6 linked regions of the Homo sapiens genome follow. The protein of the gene in region 4 purifies or fractionates together with the protein of the main gene of each other region. This does not show direct contact. Each region holds a gene or a part of one and is shown on either strand. Other genes may lie near its edges. The genes, in order: PPP2R2C, RBMS1, SMAP2, SMAD9, ZNF143 and BCL7B.

Region 1 (3,500 bases), on a different chromosome or scaffold from region 4:
GTGACCCACACAGAGCCAATCAGATCCTTCCATGAGAGTTTTACACAGTCCCTGGGAGGGGTTGGCTGGCTGAGGATAATGGAAAGGGGAATGATTTGGGGGTCATCTCTGAAGAGGGAGAGGATGAGGCCAGTGTGTAAGAAGAAGCAGGGAGGAGCGGAGATGGGGAAGCATGGAGAGAAGAAAACGGCCGGAGAGAAAAAAACAGCCCTAGGGATACAGCATGGGCCCCTGGGGGAGCCTTGCCCAGGACTCCTCAGAGCAAGTGTAGGTGTGTTTGACTCCCGCACCCGAGCACGCTCGGCTGGCACAAATCTCTCCCCCCAGGCAGGACAGATCAAGGAGAACTTCATGGAGGAGGGGGCGTTGAAGCCTGTTGTGGGAGGGCCTGCGGGATTCCTCCGGGTAGGTAACCTGGGGAAGGGCAGGCCTGCCAATAGGATAGTCCACGCAGGATCACTGCGGCACCCCTGCGCATACGAACTGGGATCTTGCTGAAGGCATCACACATGGTCTCATCCCCAAAGCGGCCACGAAGGCCAGTTTCCTAGAACCACTTTCCAGCCGAGCTGACTTAGGGGCTTCCTCAAGCACACGGTGGCGAGGGTAGAATGTGGACCAGAGACTGAGAGAGTCCAGCAGGAGAGCTGCTGCCTCTCCACAGCACGCTGCCCATCTGCGTTCTGCCGGTGCTAGGAAGCCCCACGGCAGGGGCCATCGGGCAGCCACCACGCGGCAGCAGCGGCGCTCTGCGGGCCGGACCAACTGTCAGAGGGGGTCACCAGGAATAAGAGGGCAGCAACTGGGAGCCTGCCAGGATTCGAGTTTGCTTTGGTCTGCAAGGATGTGGGAACCTGGGGGGAATCCTTGCTTCTCTCCTGAGCCTCTGAGGCCCTGGAAGGCAGGACCCAGGGTCTGTTTATCTTGGGACCCCTGACCATGGGGCATGTTGTTCTCAGAACAGTGCTCAAAGTGAACTGGGAGGTGGCACACCTCTATGCCTTCTAGAAACACCCACAGCCACTGGACACACCTGAGGTCCCCAGTGAAGGGCTCAGAACAGGTTGAGTCATAGTAGCCCCCCAGGGCACCCCACCCATTGCGGGAGGCAAACAAGGACAGAGGTTCCAGCCGGGCAGAGCAGAGCCAGCTGTGGAGCGAGAGACAGTGAGGCGGGTGGGGGACCACTAGGACAGGGCGTGGCTGGCGTGTAAAGTGCACGCAGGAAGTGGCGGGTGGGAGGCAGGACAGGAGAGCCCAGGCCTAGACACCACTGTCAGCCTGGGGATGCTTGGCGGCTTCTCCAGTCCTGGGAGCAGGCATCACCTGGCCGCGGGTGCCCCCTGGTGGCAGCTTGAAGGAAGGACGGGCAGTGGGTCGCAGCCAGCGGGGACCTACCCCGCAAAACGCACATAAAAGCTGGAATCAGCTTGTTACAGCTGCAGGTCCCTCTCGTCCGATTTGGATAGACCCTCTTGGGACCCACTGCACCAGGGAACCCCAAATGCAGCTCAGCAGCATGGGAGGAGCCCTGTCTGCTGGGGGTGTCTGGGATCTATCTGGGGGCAGGGCCTAGAGAGAAGGTCCTGTGTCCTGCTGACCCAGCTGTGCCAGCCCAGCCCCGGGTCGGGCCTCCATCCTGGTTTTCTAAGCATCCTTTAGTGGCCCCCTGTGATCACCATGCCAGCCCCTTGCCTGAGCTCGGGCTCTGCTGAGAGACCCCTGCGGGCTGGGGGAGCTCCAGGATGTTGGCAACTCTCTCAGAAATCTCCTTCCCTGGACACAATGACTTGGCCCCCCACTTGGATCCAGCCCTGCTTCCAGGGGGCTCCCTCCTGGTCCTGTCTCTGCCATGTCCAGCCCTCCCCTCATCCCACACACCAACCCTGATGGTCCCAGCCCTATGCCCAGAGCCACAGAGAGTCATAGTGCGGCAGCTCTCACATGACCACCACAGTGCCAGCCACCCTCAGAGGTCTGGGAGAGCCCAGACCTGTCATGTTGACTGATGCCATCCACAGGGTGGACAGCCCCCCACCAGGTGATGCCCAAGTCAGGGCTGCTGGCTCTCACTCCACCCTCCTTGCCCACCACACTGGACAGGACTGCGGGGAGGAGGTGACAGTACATGGGCTCCTGACAGGTGGTATTCTGATCTAGCAGCCAGTGTAGTCTTTATCTCCACACTGTGTATCATCTGGAGACCCACTTCTGAATCTGGGCGGCTGGACAAAGAGGCATCCTGTCCTTGAGGAAGCAGCTGTAGGAGACACTGAGAGGCCACCTCTCAGCTTCTGAGATCGAAACTCACAGATGGAGAGTAGGCTTGTCCATTTCAGAATCTTACGCCTGGCAGGACCCTGAGCACAAAGCTGATGTGATTTGGGAGGGCAGAAGAGGGATTTTCCCACCTCCAGAATGGAGGAAGAATCCCAGAGAAGAGACACAGAGGTAAGGACCCACGGGTAGAGGTCAGGTCAGGAGCCCCTGCCACAGCCCCCTTGTCCATGCCCGCCCTGGGCTGAGCCCAGGCTAGGGAGACACAGGAACTCACTTCTGGCACTGGGGCGCCACTTTCCAGGCAGGTGGGGTTGAGAGACGGCTGGACTTGTGGATTGTGACAAGCCCTGGAGGGTGTAGGAGCTCCAAGGTGCCCCTGAGCCTCAGCGGGCCCGAGTGGGGTGTCACCAGGAAGAGAGGGAGACAGTAGTGGTGATGGGAGGAGGGGTGAGTAGACCGATGGTCAAAGCCACAGGGGTGCAGGGCTGTCTCAGGACATACAGGTGTGGATGGATGATGGTGACCGGGTGCTGGGCTATAGCCCTCGCCCCCGACAAGCTGGGAGAGGGGAGCACATCACCGGGGACCCTGAATTAACTAAACATGTTCCCACTACTGCCCATAGGGCAGGCGCCAACGTGGCTGTGAGGTTCAGTGACAGAAGATGAAGAATTTCATGTCCTGCCCCTTGAATCTGAGCGCTGAGAGTTGGACCTGCTCTGGAAAGCGTGGGCTTCACCCAGACACCTGGACCCATTGAGGCTGAGTAGCCCCATGCTGCGGGTCACCGGAATCCCAGCCCAGACCCCTGCAGGGCAGAAACCCTCCCTACGGTGAGGTGAGGTGCGGGCTGAGGTCAGGGCTTACCTGTCGCTCCCGTTCCAGGCACATTCAAACTTGTCGAAAATGCAGTCGTTCTCGTACAGGGAACAGAGCTTGCTCCGAAGGTAGTCATGGACCTGGTGGGATAAGGGATGAGGTGAGTGGACGGGGCGTCCCGACCATCCTGGCCCTTCCACAAGAAGGGTCTCAAAGAGCAGCGAGGGTCTGCATGCCCTGACATGGCCCAGCGCAGACCTGCTCATCTCAGCGAGGGTCTGAATGCTCTGACACAGCCCGACACAGCCCTGCTCATCTCATCGGGAGGCCCATGACCAGGCACACGGCTGACCCCGACCGTGACACAGCCCAATACAGCCCTGCTCATCTTATCGGGGGGC
Region 2 (3,500 bases), on a different chromosome or scaffold from region 4:
TGTCAGCTGCATTGCTCACTTAATGCTACCTACTAGAGACACATCTTTATGTATTACCATGTTTATACTTGTTCTTTTATCAGTTCCTGCTGAAGAATAAACAAAAGCAAGGGTACACACCTATTCTGTATTATATCTAACGGCAATTATCTTAAGTTTCAATTTTTGGGACACATGGTGTCCAAAAGCAGGGCCCCTTGGTGAAGGAAGTGTTTGGGTTCATTCCAATCCAAAATGCTATGATTCCAAGGACTGACCACTGACAAACATTTTCCTTTGCTTTACATTCTCCTATACATAAATTGCTCTGCCAAATACAAAGCAGCTCATACTAAATTGGGTATCCAAGCTGCATAATATTTGACTCAAATTTCATAAACGCTCAAAATTTTAAGACACATAAAAATGTAGCAGAGATTCATGGTCCGCAAGTGGTTATACTGCTGACGAATCCTAAAGGTACAAACCTGGTAGGCAGATACAGGAGATGCAATATAGGGTGTAATAGAAGTTTGAGTGATCATTCGGTTTGTAGCAATACTGTATGGTGAAGGATAAAATCTAGAACAAACACAAAAGCCTTTATTAAGTAATCCTTTAAATAGAATAATTCATGGAACAAATGTCTGATATTTTCCACCTTCACATTTTCCCTCAAGCCATTATGGATTTATTTTAACGACATACCCGTTCTGTATAGCAGCTGTAGTTGGGTCGTAAGTAAGTGTCATTCCAGCCTATGGGAAAGAGAAAGAAATATAAACATTCATCTAGAAAGGCATGATTTAAAAATTCTATTTTTAGCCAGGTGTGGTGGTGTGCACCTGTAGTCCCAGCTGCTGGGGAGGCTGAGGTGGGAAGATCCTTTTGAAGCCCAGGAGTTCGAGGCTGTAGTTAGCTATGATTACATCACTGCACTCCAGCCTGGGCAACAGAAGGAGACCCCTGTCTCTTAAAAAAAAAGGGGAGGGAGGGGAATTTGTACTTAGAGTCTAGTAGCATTTGATAAAATTGGGAGTTTCTGTTAGTCAAAATGACTATAAATATGAAAATTAATCTCTGGACCTGCACTGTCCCATGTGATAGTCATAAGCCACATGCAGCTATTTAAAACTACATAAAAAATCAATCTCTCTAGCATACTAGCTACGTTTCAAGTGCTCAGAGAGCCACCTGTGGCTGGTGGCTGTTATTGGACAGTGCAGATTCTAGAACATTTTCCCTAGACATTCTTGGATCAATATGTTATTGTTTTTAAAATAATAATTCATGGAAAGTCAATACAGGGAAATGGACGTCCAACATTTTATTACGAAATTGAGAGTTTTAATTAAAAAAAAAACTATTCAAAAGAGAGGTGAAAAAAACCCCAACTCAGTGATAAATGTACTATTTATATATAAATATTTAGATTACTATTTAGGATAACTTCTAAATATTATAAATATAAACCCCTCTAAGAAACCATGCTAGCCTGGGCAACATAGTTAGATCCTATCTCTATAAAAATTTTAAAAAATTAGGCCGAGCACGATGGTTCACGCCTGTAATCCCAGCACTTTGGGAGGCTGAGGTGGGTGGATCATGAGGCCAGGAGATTGAGACCATCCCGACTAACACGGTGAAACCCCATCTCTAGTAAAAATACAAAAAATTAGCCGCGCATGGTGGTGGGTGCCTGTAGTCCCAGCTACTTGGGAGGCTGAGGCAGGAGAATGGCATGAACCCAGGAGGCAGAGCTTGCAGTGAGCGGAGATCGTGCCACTGCCCTCCAGCCTGAGCGACAGAGCAAGACTCCATCTCAAAAATAAAAAATAAATAAAAAAATAAAAATTTTTAAAAATTAGCCAGGAGTGGTGGCATGTCCCTGTCGTCTCAGCTACATAGGAGGCTGAGGTGGGAGGACTGCTTGAGCACAGGAGTTCAAGGTTGTGGTAGGCTATAACCACACCACTGGACTCCAGCCTGGGCAACAGAGACCATGTTTCTTCCTTTCTTTTTTTTTTTTTTTTATTTTGTTTTTTTTTTTTGAGATGGAGTCTCGCTCTGTTGCCCAGGCTGGAGTGCAGTGGCATGATCTTGGAACACTGCAGCCTCTGCCTCCCGGGCTGCAGCGATTCTCCTGCCTCAGCCTCCCAGGTAGCTGGGATTACAGGCATGGACCACCACGCAGGGCTAATTTTTGTATTTTTAGTAGAGACGGGGTTTCGCCATGTTGGCCAGGCTGATCTCTAACTCCTGATCTCAGGTGATCTGCCTGCCTTGGCCTCCCAAAGTGCTAGGATTATAGGTGTGAGCCACCGCGCCTAGCCTACAGAAACCCTGTTTCTGAAAAAAACCAAAAACAAACCCAAATCACTTGTGTTTTTCTTATGGCAATTTAGAATGCTCTTTTACTTCATGTGTAGCTAGCTGGTAAACACAGCTGCTTCCACCACCTATCGGTCCATCTGGAGAATCACTCTGTTATCACCATATATAATGAAAAGAATTTTAATTTGGCATCACTTGAATTATAATGTACCGAAAGGAAGATTTAATCCTGGCACCTATTTCAGAAGTGTGCAGCCAAGTCAAGATGCCTTTTTGTGTTACTTTTCATGTGGGCATTCAAGATCACACCCCCTCCCCCACCCCGCAAAGTTTCAAGAAAGGACTTACAAGTCTCACCTCTCCTTCTCTATGCCATGGTCTTCCATTAGGGATGTATTTGTTTGGGTTCTGTCTCTTTTTCTGTCCTCCATCAGCAAACTTACACAATAAAGGTTCTGTGGGGGCTAAGTAAACAGAGAAAAATAAAATGAAACCACAATGATACGTGTATGTGGATGACAAAATGTATTACAAAAATAGGAATAGTGTTCACGCTATTAGAAAATTCATACAACACTTTAAGGCAAAAGCAGTTTACTCAGACCTTTGTAAAACTGTCCACGATGAAAAACATAGTGCAGAAAAACATACTAGTTATTATTTCTGAACATTTAAATAACTATTCTGAGGAAGCAAAGGAATCTTTCGATTCACTTTCACACTTAAGAGTAGACACATTTCTTTTGGTTTTGGGCCCTCTCCAATTCCACCTCTGGACCGTCACCAAAATAATCTTCAAATTCAATAGGATTGTGCCATCCTCCCCTCCCCCAACTTAAAATGGTCCCTTAGCGTCCCATTATAATTCCTAAGAGGGACCCTTCACTTCTCCCAGTAGAAAACAAGCCACCTCTACACTGCTCGCACATATATTTTTATTCACAATTTGTAACAATTGGTGAGTATGTTTACTTGCTTGGTGTCTGTTTCCCCTTCTAGGCTATACGCCCCATGGGGGCAGTAACATTGTCTGTTTTGTCTATCACTGTATCCCCAGTGCCTAAGTGTCTGGACTTTGTAGTTGCTTATTACATCTTGGTTGCATCAGTGAATGAATAGAAATAGGTCTCATATGTTTATTTTTGGGATACGTCAGTGAAGATGGCTGTTGTGAGAAAGCTAAAAAT
Region 3 (3,500 bases), on a different chromosome or scaffold from region 4:
AAAAAGAATAGTTTTTAACAAAGCCAGTTTCTTTTCATTTGATATTAAACGTCTTCACTTAGCAAATACTAATTATTGGCATAAAAATCTTCACAAAATATGAAAAAAATCTAAGTACATTAAATAACAAATTCTGAAATAGCTTTTTGGTAAATGGGAGGTTATTTCCTTCCTAAGAGAAACATCCGGTAACCGGGCTTGCTTTCATGGGTACAGTATACCAGCAATGAAATCATGAATACCCTGAGGGCAGAGCTGCTGTTTCCACAATAGCTGTGTACAAATAGCAACTCTACTCCTTCGTCATCTGAATTATCTCAGATACCCTTTTCTGACCTCATCTGAGTTCATATCTTTAGGCACAATGAACAGAGCTGGGCAGACAGACCACAGTTTTCTACAAATAAAACGAAATGTGTATGCTTGGGTTCTAAACTGTTTTTGATGATGCCATGCAAGCTGTAGCTGCACACTGGGTTCTTTCTTGGCACAGATATGATATTGACAAGTCCCTTTTCTGGATAACTGCAAGGTAAGAGTCCTTCATACACAGTTGAGAAGGAATCATTTTTACCTAACTATATGTATTACACTTACTTGCCTGTGTTGAAATTCACCTACCAGTTAATGCCCCTTTCACACAGCTTCATAAGATCAGCCTGAAGTGGATTCCAATTAGCTTAACTTTTAATTACCCAGAAGGGCTTGGAGCTCAGTGCAAACAGTGATTTCACTGGCTATTATATCATTATTACATAACTAGAATAGATGATAGATAGGTAGGACCTGCGCTGGAAGTGGAGAATCCCTTACTCTCAATACTTCTGTGACTAGATAAATAGCCAATTATTCCTAAGAGAATTTTCTGTAGAATCTTGTCAAAGGTTATTTAAAGGTATAAATAGTCATATCTATTGGTTCTCCATTAGCTGTCATTAGTTAGGCATATTTTCCTCTTTCAGAAATCATGCTGTCTGTCCCCCTGTGTGTTATATTTGTCCTAGTTATCATATACTGTATTGCAGATTCTAAACATGCCTAGGATGGAATGTGTTCTTGGCAACTGGTAGCCAGTCTCCCTCTGAAACCCTTCTCAGAAACAAGGGTCCCATTGGCAATCAGTCCAACACACTGGTTATCAGCAGGTAATGCTGGAAATATACATTGGTCAAACTGAAGGAAACTCTGGTGATTTAATTACACCTACTTTTGTTGATTTCATTTACAGGAAAAAAGTATATATGTGTGTATATATCTATGTAGATAGATATAGCTGTAGTACATATACACATATACTGTTTTATTTGATCTAGTATATGCAACATGTCCATCCCAAGAAATAATTCAAAACTGGGAATCATCACTAACACCTTCTAACTACAGATTAAGGCAAGAATTCACCGATAGGCAGAAGTTTGTTTCTGCCTCATGGTCTTGACTCAGTAACTGGCACTTTTTACTTTTGCTTAAAAATTTATATTGAGACAGGGTCAAACTCCGTTGCCTAGACTGGAATGAAGTGGTGCAATCACAGCTCACTGCAGCCTCAACCTCCCTGGCTCACGTAATCCTCCGACCTCAGCCTCCCAAGTAGCTGGTTATTACAGGCATGTATACCACCATGCCTGGCTAATTTTTAAATTTTTTGTAGAGATGGGGGTCTTTCTTTGTTGCCCAGGCTGGTCTTAAACTTCTAGGTTCAAGTGATCCTCCCACCTCAGCCTCCCAAAGTGATGGGATTAGGGGATGAGCCACCACACCTGGTCTACTTTTGCATTTTTTAAAAGATGGTTTTGGAGTGTTTTGGTAGCAGTTCTTCAACGTGTTCTCTGGCCTGATTTAATAAGCACATTACTTATTGTGGACAAAACTTGAAAGATGTATAACCAACCCTAAAGGCATTGATGTCCAGACTTCGGTCCATGTATTTCTTCTTCTCATATTTGTCTCGAATAAATCCTTCAACAGCTCTGCAAAAAGCTTATTAAGGATGAATCCAACAAGCCTCTCAAACAGCAAGAAGATAAAAGATCAATTGTGTTCCACGGAGCATTGTTCTCCTCCTTCCCTCTTGCCTGGTTTCCCCACATGGCTCCTGCCTCTTCATATGCAATTTCTCTGACCAAAACCTTAAAATGCCTCTTTCACAGTTAAAGCAGGGAATCATTACTTCCTATGCTTTCCCTTCAGCGTGATGATAGCAGCAAGTGGAATTAACCTTCAAACTGACATTAGAGGCTGTATGTGGCTGTTCTAGAATATAGGTAAAGCAGTCAAATGTCTATTTTAAAGCACTTAGGTCAATAGGCCTCAAACAAAGGCACGTAAGTGCCCCTTAAAAACATAAACTCTTGTGCCCCACTGCCAAATTCTGACCAGTGGGTCTTCTGCAAGGCCCCAAATCTGCATTTAACAGGTTCCACCTGAACCCATTAAAAAAAAAAGAACCTTAACAAGATGATCTACAAACTACATTTTGAGAAGCACTGCCTTTAAGGGATTTGGTTTTGTGTCCTAGGTGCTATGCTCTGTTGAACAGATGGTGGAAGAAAGTTATTGGTTATTGACAAACTGGTAAACAACAGTTAATTCTTTCACCCAAGACATAAAAAGATGATAAAAATGAATGGCAATTTTGCTGACTGCCAGGGTTAACAGAGCACAATGAACTACTCTTTTTAATCAAACAATAGTTTCAGAGATCCAAAATAAACTAGTGGAGATGTAACTTTATAGAAGAATTCACAGTGAAATCACTGCAGTCTTAATTCCAGAGTGAGTCTTCTTCAAGTGACACCGTATGACAATTCCGACATTCACAAATACATGTGCTTTTTGTGCACCTTGATTGCAGGACAGAGGACAAGCAAGGACACTGACTAATCCACATAGAGATGACCCAGTCACATTACAGGACTGGAGTCTTGTCTGACTCTCCCCAAGCATCAAAATACCACTCAGCCTTCTAAGTTGCTCCAGAAAAGATACGGGTCTATCTGAGGTCGCCGAAAGGTCTCAGGAAGATAGGCTTCATAAAGTCGGTTTGCCTTTCCATTTCCCATCTCTTGCATGCACTGTGACCAAAGAGAATGTAGAAACATGGAACGTCAGATCAAGAAAGAACTGAAAAACTTCTCACCCAATTCCACTACTGTACAATTGAAGAACCAACCTAGAGAGTGTCAGAACCAACATTTAAACTTGTGTATTCTGATTTCCAATTCATGATTCCCTCTACCTTACTAGGATTTCCCAATCATTTGCCCCAAGCTGTCTTTCCCCCACTCCATAGGTTCCTTTTACTGAAATATTTGTGTACCAAGATACATTCAATTCAGTAATAAATCAAGATCTCATTTGAAACTCTTAGATACACAGCTACCAATTAAAATGTCTACTTGGCAGGCAATGATCAGTGTTATCATTCTGAGTTTATACTATTAATCAATTCCAATAAATGTGTTTCCCATTAGGCTTTTAAGTAGACTCCTTAACACTTG
Region 4 (4,155 bases):
GCAACAGTAACCAAGGAAATATAAATCCAACAGCCTAGAATTACAACTATTTGAGAAGATTCATGGTTTCAACGTACTGCTATATTTACTGTTTCATTCTGGACAGTTTCCCGTTTCTTTAACTCCTCTCTAAGTGTCCAAAACAATATACAGAAAGTCTGCACTAAGCTTCGTTAAAGCTTTAAAATTTAGCATAGTATGTCTGGCAAATCAGAAAAACCACATATTTGTCATAACCTTTACCTTCCCTAAAATCAGAGTACATCCTGTGGATAAGGATTATTTCCCACATATTAAAGCAGAACATGATGAAACTGCTGTCCTATTTATTACAGAGGGAATGTCAGATATAAAGTAGTTACCTTAATCCTACGGTGCTCACTTACGAAACACCATCCCTCCAGTTTGGCAATGCATAGTGCACTCTCATTAATCAGAATTAAACTATTTGGAAAACATATTGAGTATTTTCATATTGACATTGAATATTTTCATCTTTATGAAACAATTTCTGGACAGACTTTTTTCCCTCCAACTGACCACATGATTAGTAAAGATAGTGTACCACTTGTTTATTACTTATGGATATCTTTAGTAATGTTTCATTTAAAAAACAAAACAAAACTCTTCTTTCTCATCCATGTCTTGGGCAATCACAGATGCAAGAGTTGACATCTGTGAATATTTTCTGATTACTTACTAACTAGGAATATATAAGTTAAAAAAATTTTTTAAAGGAGAAAAGCCAAATAGTTCATGTTGACTTTGAAAGACTGATGACAATGATGTGGCAATTCTAAAGTACTTAGAGGTTTAACCCAAAATTTGTTTACGTCTTTGATTTTTAGTAAACACTGCACTGATAAACATGAGTTTGTTCAGATCAAGAGTATGTTGGCATTCTCTTAAGCATAGTTTGAAACCAGAGAGCTCAAGCATAAAACAGCTCTGACAAAGATAACCAGTCAAGCATAAAAATGGGAGTTGGTTGTGTCAGAATACATTAAGAGGCCGAAGGCTGTCTGGCAGACAGCTGTCTTGCCATCACTGAAGGTGACTATTACCACTAAAAGTTGTTTTTCGGATACAGTACTTGAAATTGCTGTCATCTTGTATTTAAAATGCTCCTTATTTATAAAGCGTCACATCCTTTTCTTATCTGAAGCCTCCTTCTTGGATAACCACAAACCTAAAAGCAGTCTAAAATTGTGCTGATGCTTTCCTACAAGCACAGGGAAACTCTTATATTGAATCTTTGTCTATTTGGAGTTGAGAATGTCTTTGGCTTTTATTTTAAATGCCTTCTTAAATATAGATCACTATTTTTAAAATGTAAACATCCAAAGGCATTCCCTCACACTTGGAGGAATGCTAAGGCAGGAGACATGCTTGTAGTAGTCACATTTCACTTTCCCAGACGGGTGCCACAAACGTTCCGCTCAGTTACTGCTTAGGAGGCAGCATTATTAAATGCCTCACGACTTAACGGTCAGCCTCCATGCTTCTTGCTAACCTACATTTCCAAAAGATCATCCGAGAAATCTGGCAAGCCACCGAAATGGTACTAGTAAACTGGATCCATCCAAAGCACTCCACAGTGCCCTGTGGGTGTGTTTCTCACTGTAAACTACTGGGTAAAGAATTTACATACAATTTTATCTCCAAACTCGATTTGTATCCTTTGTAGGTTAGTTCTCAGGAGTACCCACTCCAGCCCAGAAATAAGTCAACGTAGTATTTCCAAACTATCACTTCAAATGTCCACGGTCAAGGGCAGGAGGAGGAAGGAATAGTAACGGGAAAACTTGTCAGCGATTAGCCATCCATAAAAATGTTCTCCCAGCGCTCCTCCTTCCGATCACAAAGCTGGCGTCAGGCAGTCTCCTGTATCTGCTTCCCACCTCGCCCCCTCCCCTCTGCGGAGAGCTGGCACCGAGGGGCGGGCCAAGGAAAAGACAAACACCCCGGCTCCGACACAGTCCAAGCGCGAGCCCGGAGACACTTCAACAACATTCCTAACTTTTTTTCTCAGTTCGCATGCCTCAAAGGTAAACAAAGCAAAAAGCCTACGAAACAGAAGGCAAGTGAGGCCAATTCGGCGCTGGCGAGTTTAAAAGTGGCCCCCAAAGAGTCACAATGACGACCCCCGCCGCCCCCTCTGTCCGCTGTCCCCTATCTCCAGCTACAGCAAGCGACCCCTCAGGCGCCTATCCTGGTCCCTGCCCACGCCCCGGGCCCCAGCCCCGACCCGACCGCCGCCCCCGCCGCGGGTCGAACATCCCCTGACAGGTCCCGGGGCCCGCGGCGCGGGCGGATGCAGGCGCGAGGAAGGCGAGCTGCGCCGCGGCCAACTCCCCAGAGCAGTCCCCTCCGGCCCCGCGCCCACCCCACCCCACCCCACTCCACCCCAGACAGGCTCCACCAAAAAACCCGGGAACAACGACCGCCAAAAGCCAAGCCTCACGCCGAGGAGCCTCCCAGGCTGCCCCGAGGACGAACAACTTCGCCCTCCACTCAATGCGCTCACACGCACGCACACAAGCAGCGCGCGGCCGAGGAGGGCACGTCTTACCTGTCCCCGCCGTGCCACTCATCCCTCCCCCACCCAGGTCCGGCGCCCCCAACCCCGCCCCCGCCGTGGTCCCCCGGCCGCCCGCTCCGAGCGCCGCGCACTCACTGCCTGGCTGCGCGCGCCCAGCGCCTGCAGGGCCCGGCGGCGGCGGCGGGGACCGAGACAGCGGCTGCAGCAGCGGCGGCGGCGGCGGCGGCGGCGGCGGCCCCAGCCGGCGTCAGTCAGACTGGAGCCGCGAAGCCTCATCGCCCGTATTAGTGCGCCGACCTGGAAAGCGGCCAGGGAGCCCTGCTTGCGGCCCGCCCCCGCCCGCCGCCGCGCGCTCTGGCCGCTCCGGGAGCCGCAGAGGAGGGGGCTGCGCGGGCCCGGCGGGGGGCGGGAGCGAGACCGGCCCCACGGCCACGTGCGCGGAAACTCGCGGCGCGGGGGTGGCGGGGTAGTACTCCTCGCAGCGGCCTGCGGCTCGGTTCCCGCCTCTTCCCCACCCCCAGCCCCGCGCTGCCCTCTCGGTCCCCCTGCGCGACCCCAGGCTCGGCCCCTGCCCGGCCTGCCGGGGTGGCCCGGGGGTGGGGTGGGAGCCCTTTGTCTGCGTGGGTCGCCTCGCGTCTCTCTCTCCCACCCCACCTCTGAGATTTCTTGCCAGCACCTGGAGCCCGAAACCAGAAGAGTTGTCAGCCCAACAAGAATATAGGATCACCGGCCCATCAGTCTGGAGACCCTTCTGAGCTGCTGTTCCTCACATGTTTCTGGGCCCTGATAGTGACTCTCACTTGCCCTGTTTGTTCCTGATTTGCTTTTCGGAGTAAGGGGATCCTGTCCCCATGGACAGTGACAGAGCAACTGGGCCGCAATGGCATAGGCAGAAGAAAATCTAATCACTCTGGGGGTGAGTGGTGGTTAAAACGACTCATGTAATTATGTGGATTGTAATTTCCTTACACATATTTATTTGCTTAACAACCCAGCATGTGAGATATATTATCTAATCTAATAAAAGATACAAACTTATGGGCACACAGCAATGTTACTGTACAACTTTCTCGTCTCACGGCCTGGCTGTCCCCCAGGTAGCCTGCCTCTTAAAGTCACTGTGGACTCCTGGAACCCACTCAGAAACGCCACTTAGGAAGAACCACCTCTGATTCCCCATCAGCCCGTAGTTCCTCACAGAAAAGGCATTTGCTGCAGGGGTGAACGTGGAATAAAGCCACAGGGCAGTTTTCAGCTTGCTCCTGTGTGCAGGAAAGTCATACCTCCAGTTGGCCCCGATGGCGGCTCCGAAATGTAAAGCAAGGCCTTAAATTTAACTGCTTTTTCTAGTTCTCAAAGCACTGCACTTTCTTCATGGCAGATGCTATTTTTGCATTATTATACCGTTGTAGTTGAACGGTGATTTGTTTAAAACAACATTTGCAGCAGAACCTTAAATACCATGCCTTAACCTCAAAGTCTTCTTTCTACACTGGCCCAGATACCTCTGCACCCGGCTATGTGTTGGGTTTGAGATTGTCCTGGGTGAGAAACACCAGGAAACAGCGGGACCGGTAAGGGCTACAGATTATATATTAAGGATTAGGCTGGAT
Region 5 (3,500 bases), on a different chromosome or scaffold from region 4:
TACTAAAAATACAAAAAACTTAGCAGGGCACGGTGGCACGCGCCTGTATTCCCAGCTACTGGGGAGGCTGAGGCAGGAGACTCACTTGAACCTGGGAGGCAGAGGTTGCAGTGAGCCAAGATCGTGCCACTGCACTCCAGCCTGGGCGACAGAGCCAGAGTCCCTCTCAAAAAACAAACCAAAAACAAAAACAAACAAAGAAAAAACACTAACAATTAACAGTCAAAATCAATATGTAGAGAAATCAGGATTTGAACTCATGTCAGTATGACTCCACAGTCCCTCCATGGTGGTTTTTTCCCCTCTAAATGTCCACACTAAGATATATCTATATCTATACTGGTATTGATATAAAATAGTGATTTTATATCGATATATATATAGAGATAGTGAAATAATAAATCTAGCCAGTTACAATGAACCTGTGACTAACTCTTATTGATAAAGAAAAAAGTGCGGCCTTTTGTGGTGGCTCACGCCTGTAATCCCAACACTTTGGGAGGCCAAGCCAGGCGGATCACAAGGTCAAGAGATTGAGACCATCCTAGCCAACATGGTGAAATCCCATCTCTACTAAAAATACAAAAAAAATAGCTGGGCATGGTGGCGCGCACCTGTAGTCCCAGCTACTTGGGAGGCTGAAGCAGGAGAATCGCTTGAACCCAGGATGTGGAGGTTGCAGTGAGCCGAGATTGCACCACTGCACTCCAGCCTGGTGACAGAGCAAGACTCTGCTGAAAAGAAAAGAAAGAAAAGGAAGGAAGGGAAGGAAGGGAAGGAAGGGAAGGAAGGGAAGGAAGGGAAGGGAGGGAAAGGAGGGAAAGGAGGGAAGGGAGAGGAGGAAGGAAGGAAGGAAGGAAGGAAGGAAGGAAGGAAGGAAGGAAGGAAGGAAGGAAGGGGTGCAGACTTTACTTTTTTCCAACTGTAATTAAAGAAATTTATTTATAAATTTAAGTATTTTAAATTTTTTAAAGATTCCTCCCTTTGTTTGGGAGGCTGAGGAGGGCAGATCACAAGGTCAGGAGACCGAGACCATCCTGGCTAACACGGTGAAACCCCGCCTCTACTAAAAAAAATACAAAAAATTAGCCGGGCATGGTGGTGGGTGCCTGTAGTCCCAGCTACTCCGAAGGCTGAGGCAGGAGAATGGTGTGAACCCAGGAGGCGGAGCTTGCAGTGAGCCGAGATCGCACCACTGCACTCCAGACTGGGAGAGAGAGCGAGAGTCTGTCTCAAAAAAAAAAAAAAAAAAAAAAAAAAAAAAAGATTCCTCCCTTTGGCTTCACAACAAAACAGCCTTTCTAAAACGTGTTATGTCATTCTATAATAAAATGCTCTCTAGCTGGGTGCAGTGGCTCATGCCTGTAATCCCAGCACTTTGGGAGGCTGAAGTGGGCGGATCACCTGAGGTCAGGAGTTTGAGACCAGCCTGACCAACATGGTGAAACCCCATCTTTACTAAAACACAAAAATTAGCCGGGTGTAGTGGCGGGCACCTGTAATCTCAGCTACTTGGGAGGCTGAGGCAGGAGAATCGCTTGAAACCAGGAGGCGGAGGTTGCAGTGAGCCAAGATCGTGTCCCTGCACTCCAGCCTGGCAACAGAGCGAGACTGTCTCAAAATAATAAATTAATTAATTAATTAAAATAAAATATTCTCTAAAGTAGTAACAATAGGTAACATTTATTGAGCATTTAGTATGAGACAAGCACGGTTCTAAGTGCTTTACATGTTTGTGCATTCTGTCCTCACAACAACCCTACGTATGATATGGACACCTACTATAATCCTCATTTTACAGATGATGAAACTAAAGCACAGAAAAGTAATCTGCTTAATGTCACACAGCAAAAAAAAAGTAGCTTTGAATATACATAGTCTGGTTGCAGAGCTGTACTCATCATTCCTAGACATTCCACCTCAAACCCCTGAACTTCCCTTAAACAAATGTAATAAGCATTAACATTTTGCTGTATTTGCTTCAAATATTTTTGACATTGTATACTTAGTTTCAATTAAACATAGTAGGCAAAGGACCTTGCTTTAAAAATTTTATACACACACACACACACACACACACACACACACACACACACACACATATATATTTTTTTGAGACAGGGTCTCACTCTGTTGCCCAGGCTGGAGTGCAGTGGCACGATCTCAACTACACTGCAACCTCTACCTCCTGGGTTCAAGCGATTCTCCTGCCTCAGCCTCCCTAGTAGCCAGGATTGAAGGCATGCACTACCACAACTGGCTAATTTTTGTATTTTTTTGTATTTTTAGTAGAGACAGGGTTTTGCATGGCCAGGCTGGTCTCAAACCCCTGACCTCAGGTGATCCGCCTGCATCGGCCTCCCAAAGTGCTAGGATTACAGGCATGAGCCAACATGCCCAGGCAAAAAATTGCATTTAAGAGGAAGAAATAGGTTAGGCAAAGTGGTTCATGTCTGTGACCCCACTGCTTTGGGAGGTCGGAGCAGGAGGACTGCTTGAGGCCAGGAGTTCAGGACCAGCCTGAGCAACATAGCAAGACCCTATATTTAACAAAAAAAATTAATCAGAAAATAAAAATTTAAAAATCAGCTGGCTGTGGTGACACACACGTGTAGTCCTAGCTGCTCAGGAGGCTGAGGCAGGAAAGCCCCTTGAGCCCAGGAATTCAGGGCTATAGTGAGCTATGATTGTACCACTGCACTCTAGCCTAACAAAGATCTTATCTCTAAAATACAGAAATGAATAAAATATGAAGTTAACCATTTCAATGTTACATTGTGATTTTATTTCTGAATCATTTAAAAAAGGAGCCAAGGCTGCTTTTAAAATATGAAATTAAGGCTGGGTGCAGTAGCTAACGCCTATAATCCCAGCACTTTGGGAGGCTGGCTTGAGGCCAGGAGTTTGAGATTAGCCTGGCAACAGAGTAAGACCCTGTCTCTACAAAAAATGAAAAAACTAGCTGGGAGAGGCAGCATGCACCTGTAGTCCCAGCTATTCAGGAGGCTGAGGCAGGAGGATCCCTGAGCCCAGGAGTTTGAGGCTGCAGTGAGCTGTGCTTGTGCCACCACAATCCAGCCTGGCAACAGAGTGAGACCCTGTCTCTTAGAACAAAAGCCAACCAAAAAAACAAAATGTGGCCTCTACTTTAAGTCTTCCAGGGACCAGTCATTTGGTTTGCTGTTCCAGCTTGTCACTGGACAGCTCAAATTGTAGGAAAATTTTTCCTTAAATCATGCTTAAATCTGCCACCTTGTACTTTAATGAATAAATACAATTCTTTCCCATGACAACAATTCAGAAGCTAAACACAGGTCTTCTTTCCCCCACCACTCCCACTTCTCCCTTATTTTATTCATACTTTCAAAGTTATTTTACCTTTGGAGGTGTGGTGAATAAATGCTGTGGTACCATCTTCTAACTGTACTGCTTGACCATCCTCTAGACGCAAACTGTCCCCTGCTCAAGAACAATGCTTACATTTAGATCTCATGTTTTCT
Region 6 (2,418 bases), on a different chromosome or scaffold from region 4:
GAGGATGACAAGATGAGCTGCTTTGTCGGTTCCAGATATCTCCAGCCCAGCAGAGATGGCCCTCTGCAGTCTAGCCGTATTTTGCCCTTCCACCATTCTTGGCTGTGACCTGGTCCAGCTGGGCCCTGAATGAATGTTTGCTTCTCAGGCCAGTATTCTCCCCTCCTCACCAAGCCACCTCCACACAGCTCTAAGGAAGCTCCCCCAGGTCCAGGCCTCAGGGGAGCCCTGCCCTCAGGCCGACCCTACTGCCTTTTCAGAGCCCTCCCTGCCCTCCTCGGAAGTTGCTGATGAACCTCCTACCCTCACCAAGGAAGAACCAGTTCCACTAGAGACACAGGTAAGCAATCACTTTGAGTTTTCCAGTTTTTTGTTTTTTTGGTTTAAGGCAGGGTCTCGCTGTTGCCCAGACTAGAGTGCAGTGGTGCGATCCTGGCTCACTACAACCTCCACTGCCTCCTGGGTTCAAGCAATTCTCCTGTTTCAGCCTCCTGAGTAGCTGGGATTACAGGCGCCCACTACCACACCTGGCTAATTTTTGTATTTTTAGTAGAGATGGGGTTTCACTATGTTGGCCAGGCTAGTCTCGAACTCCTGAGCCCAAGTGATCCACCCATCTCAGCCTCCCAATGTGCTGGGATTATAGGTGTGAGCCACTGTGCCCGGCCAGGCTTCCCAGTTTCTAAGTCAAAAAACCAGGAAAGACTGTGGATGTGGGGTTGGATCTGCAGCGCCGGAAATGAGTCCCAGGGTTGTAGGCAGGGGAGGATGTTTGATCATCTGCTGGAAGGAGCAGAGTGGACATCCCATTATAATTCGGGTGGGTGGGAAGGTTCTGGTTGGGAGGGGTGGCCCTGGCATTCCATGCTCTGCCTGCTCCTAGGTCGTTGAGGAAGAGGAAGACTCAGGTGCCCCGCCCCTGAAGCGCTTCTGTGTGGACCAACCCACAGTGCCGCAGACGGCGTCAGAAAGCTAGCACCATCCCGGCCCTCCGCCTCCTGGCCCTGCCTCTATTTATTGCATTCTGGTTCTGGCCGCGCCGCGTTGCTGGGGTAAGGGCAAGCACTGGGGTCAAGAGCCTGCACACATGAGCCTTCCGGGCTGGAAGGCTGGCGTAGGACTTGGGGCTGTAGCATCATCTTCCTGACCCTGGCACCTGTGTCTACTTGCTCCCGAGAAGAGGAGCGCTCATGTCTTTTTTGCACCCCAAGTTGGCTGGAGCATCGGCCACCCCAAGATTCATCTGTGACCTCCAGGCAGCAGTCTCTGCTCCAGAATCTCTGGACGGAGCTGCTGGCAGCTTCTGCGAGAAGAGAGAGATGTGGAAGGCACCTTCTAGAAGAGAGCGTGCCTCAGGTTACTTGAACTTGAACGGAGACTGTAGACTCCCGGACTTTCCCCTAGGACTGGGGGCCCTGTAGGCTGCTGTTGGAGGACTGGGTAGAGACATTGGAGGGAAGGGAAGGGCTTTTCTCCACACAAGGGCAGAGAGTCCGTCTAGATTTCTTGCTGTCCTGCCAGCTCTGCCCATGCCTGAGGTGGTCCTACCTCTCACGGGCACCCTAGCTGCTGACAGCCCTTTGTGGCCGCCGTCCCCATCCCCTGCCCTCAGCACACACATCTGCACACACGCAGCTTTGTTCTCACCTCTACCTGTCATTCCAGCATCCCTGCCTCTTGTCACAAACTGCCCCAGCAAGAATTTGAGGTTCTGACAACAGTACCCATCCCCCACAGTACCCCTTCAGCTCAGTTTCTAGAAAGCTCCCTTTTCTTTGAAATCTGCATGTTGAATTGAACTTTGTGATTTTATTTTTTGTTTCAAAAAAGTTTAAGAAAATGGAAATGGGCAACAGTGAGTGAAGACATATTTTAGCACTGAATAGAATATTTTTAAAATTAAACTATTTGAAATATGTCCTGTTGGTATCTGAGTGCTTCCTTCTTGAAGGTTGCGGGCCGGGGTGGGGGTGGTGGCTGAGTGCTTGTGGGGTCACTGTGGGCTGGGCCTGCCCATCCTTTCACTCCCACAGTGTGGACTTCATGACAGTGATTTCTAGCCTCCCTTTGAAGCTGTCACGTAGTTCAAATTATGCTTCTCGCTGGGCGTGGTGGCTCATACTTCTTATCCCAGCACTTTGGGAGGCCGAGGCAGGAGGATCACTTGAGGCTAGGAGTTTGAGACCAGCCTGGGCAACACAGCAAGACCCTATCTCTATCTAAACAATATTTTTAAATTAAAACATAAAAACCAGGCCAGGCGCAGTGGCTCCCGCCTGTAATCTTAGCACTTTGGGAGGCTGAGGTGGGTGGATCATCTGAGCTCAGGAGTTCAAGACCAGCCTGACCAGCAAAATGAGACCCCATCTCTACTAAAAATACAAAAATTAGCCAGGCATGGTGGCAGGCGCCTTTAGT

The links.
Region 1: the proteins of SMAD9 (region 4) and PPP2R2C purify together in Homo sapiens (affinity purification with mass spectrometry; one large-scale study listed by BioGRID and IntAct). This does not show direct contact.
Region 2: the proteins of SMAD9 (region 4) and RBMS1 purify together in Homo sapiens (affinity purification with mass spectrometry, with the first as the bait; one large-scale study listed by BioGRID). This does not show direct contact.
Region 3: the proteins of SMAD9 (region 4) and SMAP2 purify together in Homo sapiens (affinity purification with mass spectrometry, with the first as the bait; one large-scale study listed by BioGRID). This does not show direct contact.
Region 5: the proteins of SMAD9 (region 4) and ZNF143 purify together in Homo sapiens (affinity purification with mass spectrometry, with the first as the bait; one large-scale study listed by BioGRID). This does not show direct contact.
Region 6: the proteins of SMAD9 (region 4) and BCL7B purify together in Homo sapiens (affinity purification with mass spectrometry; one large-scale study listed by BioGRID and IntAct). This does not show direct contact.

Annotation. Positions count from the first base shown.
Region 1 is NC_000004.12:6,326,115-6,329,614, forward strand, and holds part of PPP2R2C (protein phosphatase 2, regulatory subunit B, gamma), read right to left. Parts: intron 3,240-3,500; coding exon 3,148-3,239; intron 1-3,147. UniProt on the Homo sapiens protein: The B regulatory subunit might modulate substrate selectivity and catalytic activity, and might also direct the localization of the catalytic enzyme to a particular subcellular compartment.
Region 2 is NC_000002.12:160,284,308-160,287,807, forward strand, and holds part of RBMS1 (RNA-binding motif, single-stranded-interacting protein 1), read right to left. Parts: intron 2,778-3,500; coding exon 2,662-2,777; intron 738-2,661; coding exon 688-737; intron 562-687; coding exon 468-561; intron 1-467.
Region 3 is NC_000001.11:40,408,227-40,411,726, reverse strand, and holds part of SMAP2 (stromal membrane-associated protein 2), read right to left. Parts: intron 3,075-3,500; coding exon 2,989-3,074; intron 1,971-2,988; coding exon 1,892-1,970; intron 1-1,891.
Region 4 is NC_000013.11:36,917,439-36,921,593, forward strand, and holds the start of SMAD9 (mothers against decapentaplegic homolog 9), read right to left. Parts: upstream 2,801-4,155; 5' UTR 2,678-2,800; intron 2,599-2,677; exon of another isoform or gene 1-2,598. UniProt on the Homo sapiens protein: Transcriptional modulator activated by BMP (bone morphogenetic proteins) type 1 receptor kinase. SMAD9 is a receptor-regulated SMAD (R-SMAD).
Region 5 is NC_000011.10:9,474,512-9,478,011, reverse strand, and holds part of ZNF143 (zinc finger protein 143), read right to left. Parts: intron 3,463-3,500; coding exon 3,379-3,462; intron 1-3,378. UniProt on the Homo sapiens protein: Transcriptional activator. Activates the gene for selenocysteine tRNA (tRNAsec). Binds to the SPH motif of small nuclear RNA (snRNA) gene promoters. Participates in efficient U6 RNA polymerase III transcription via its interaction with CHD8.
Region 6 is NC_000007.14:73,535,856-73,538,273, reverse strand, and holds the end of BCL7B (B-cell CLL/lymphoma 7 protein family member B), read left to right. Parts: intron 1-260; coding exon 261-340; intron 341-883; coding exon 884-976; 3' UTR 977-1,918; downstream 1,919-2,418. UniProt on the Homo sapiens protein: Positive regulator of apoptosis. Plays a role in the Wnt signaling pathway, negatively regulating the expression of Wnt signaling components CTNNB1 and HMGA1.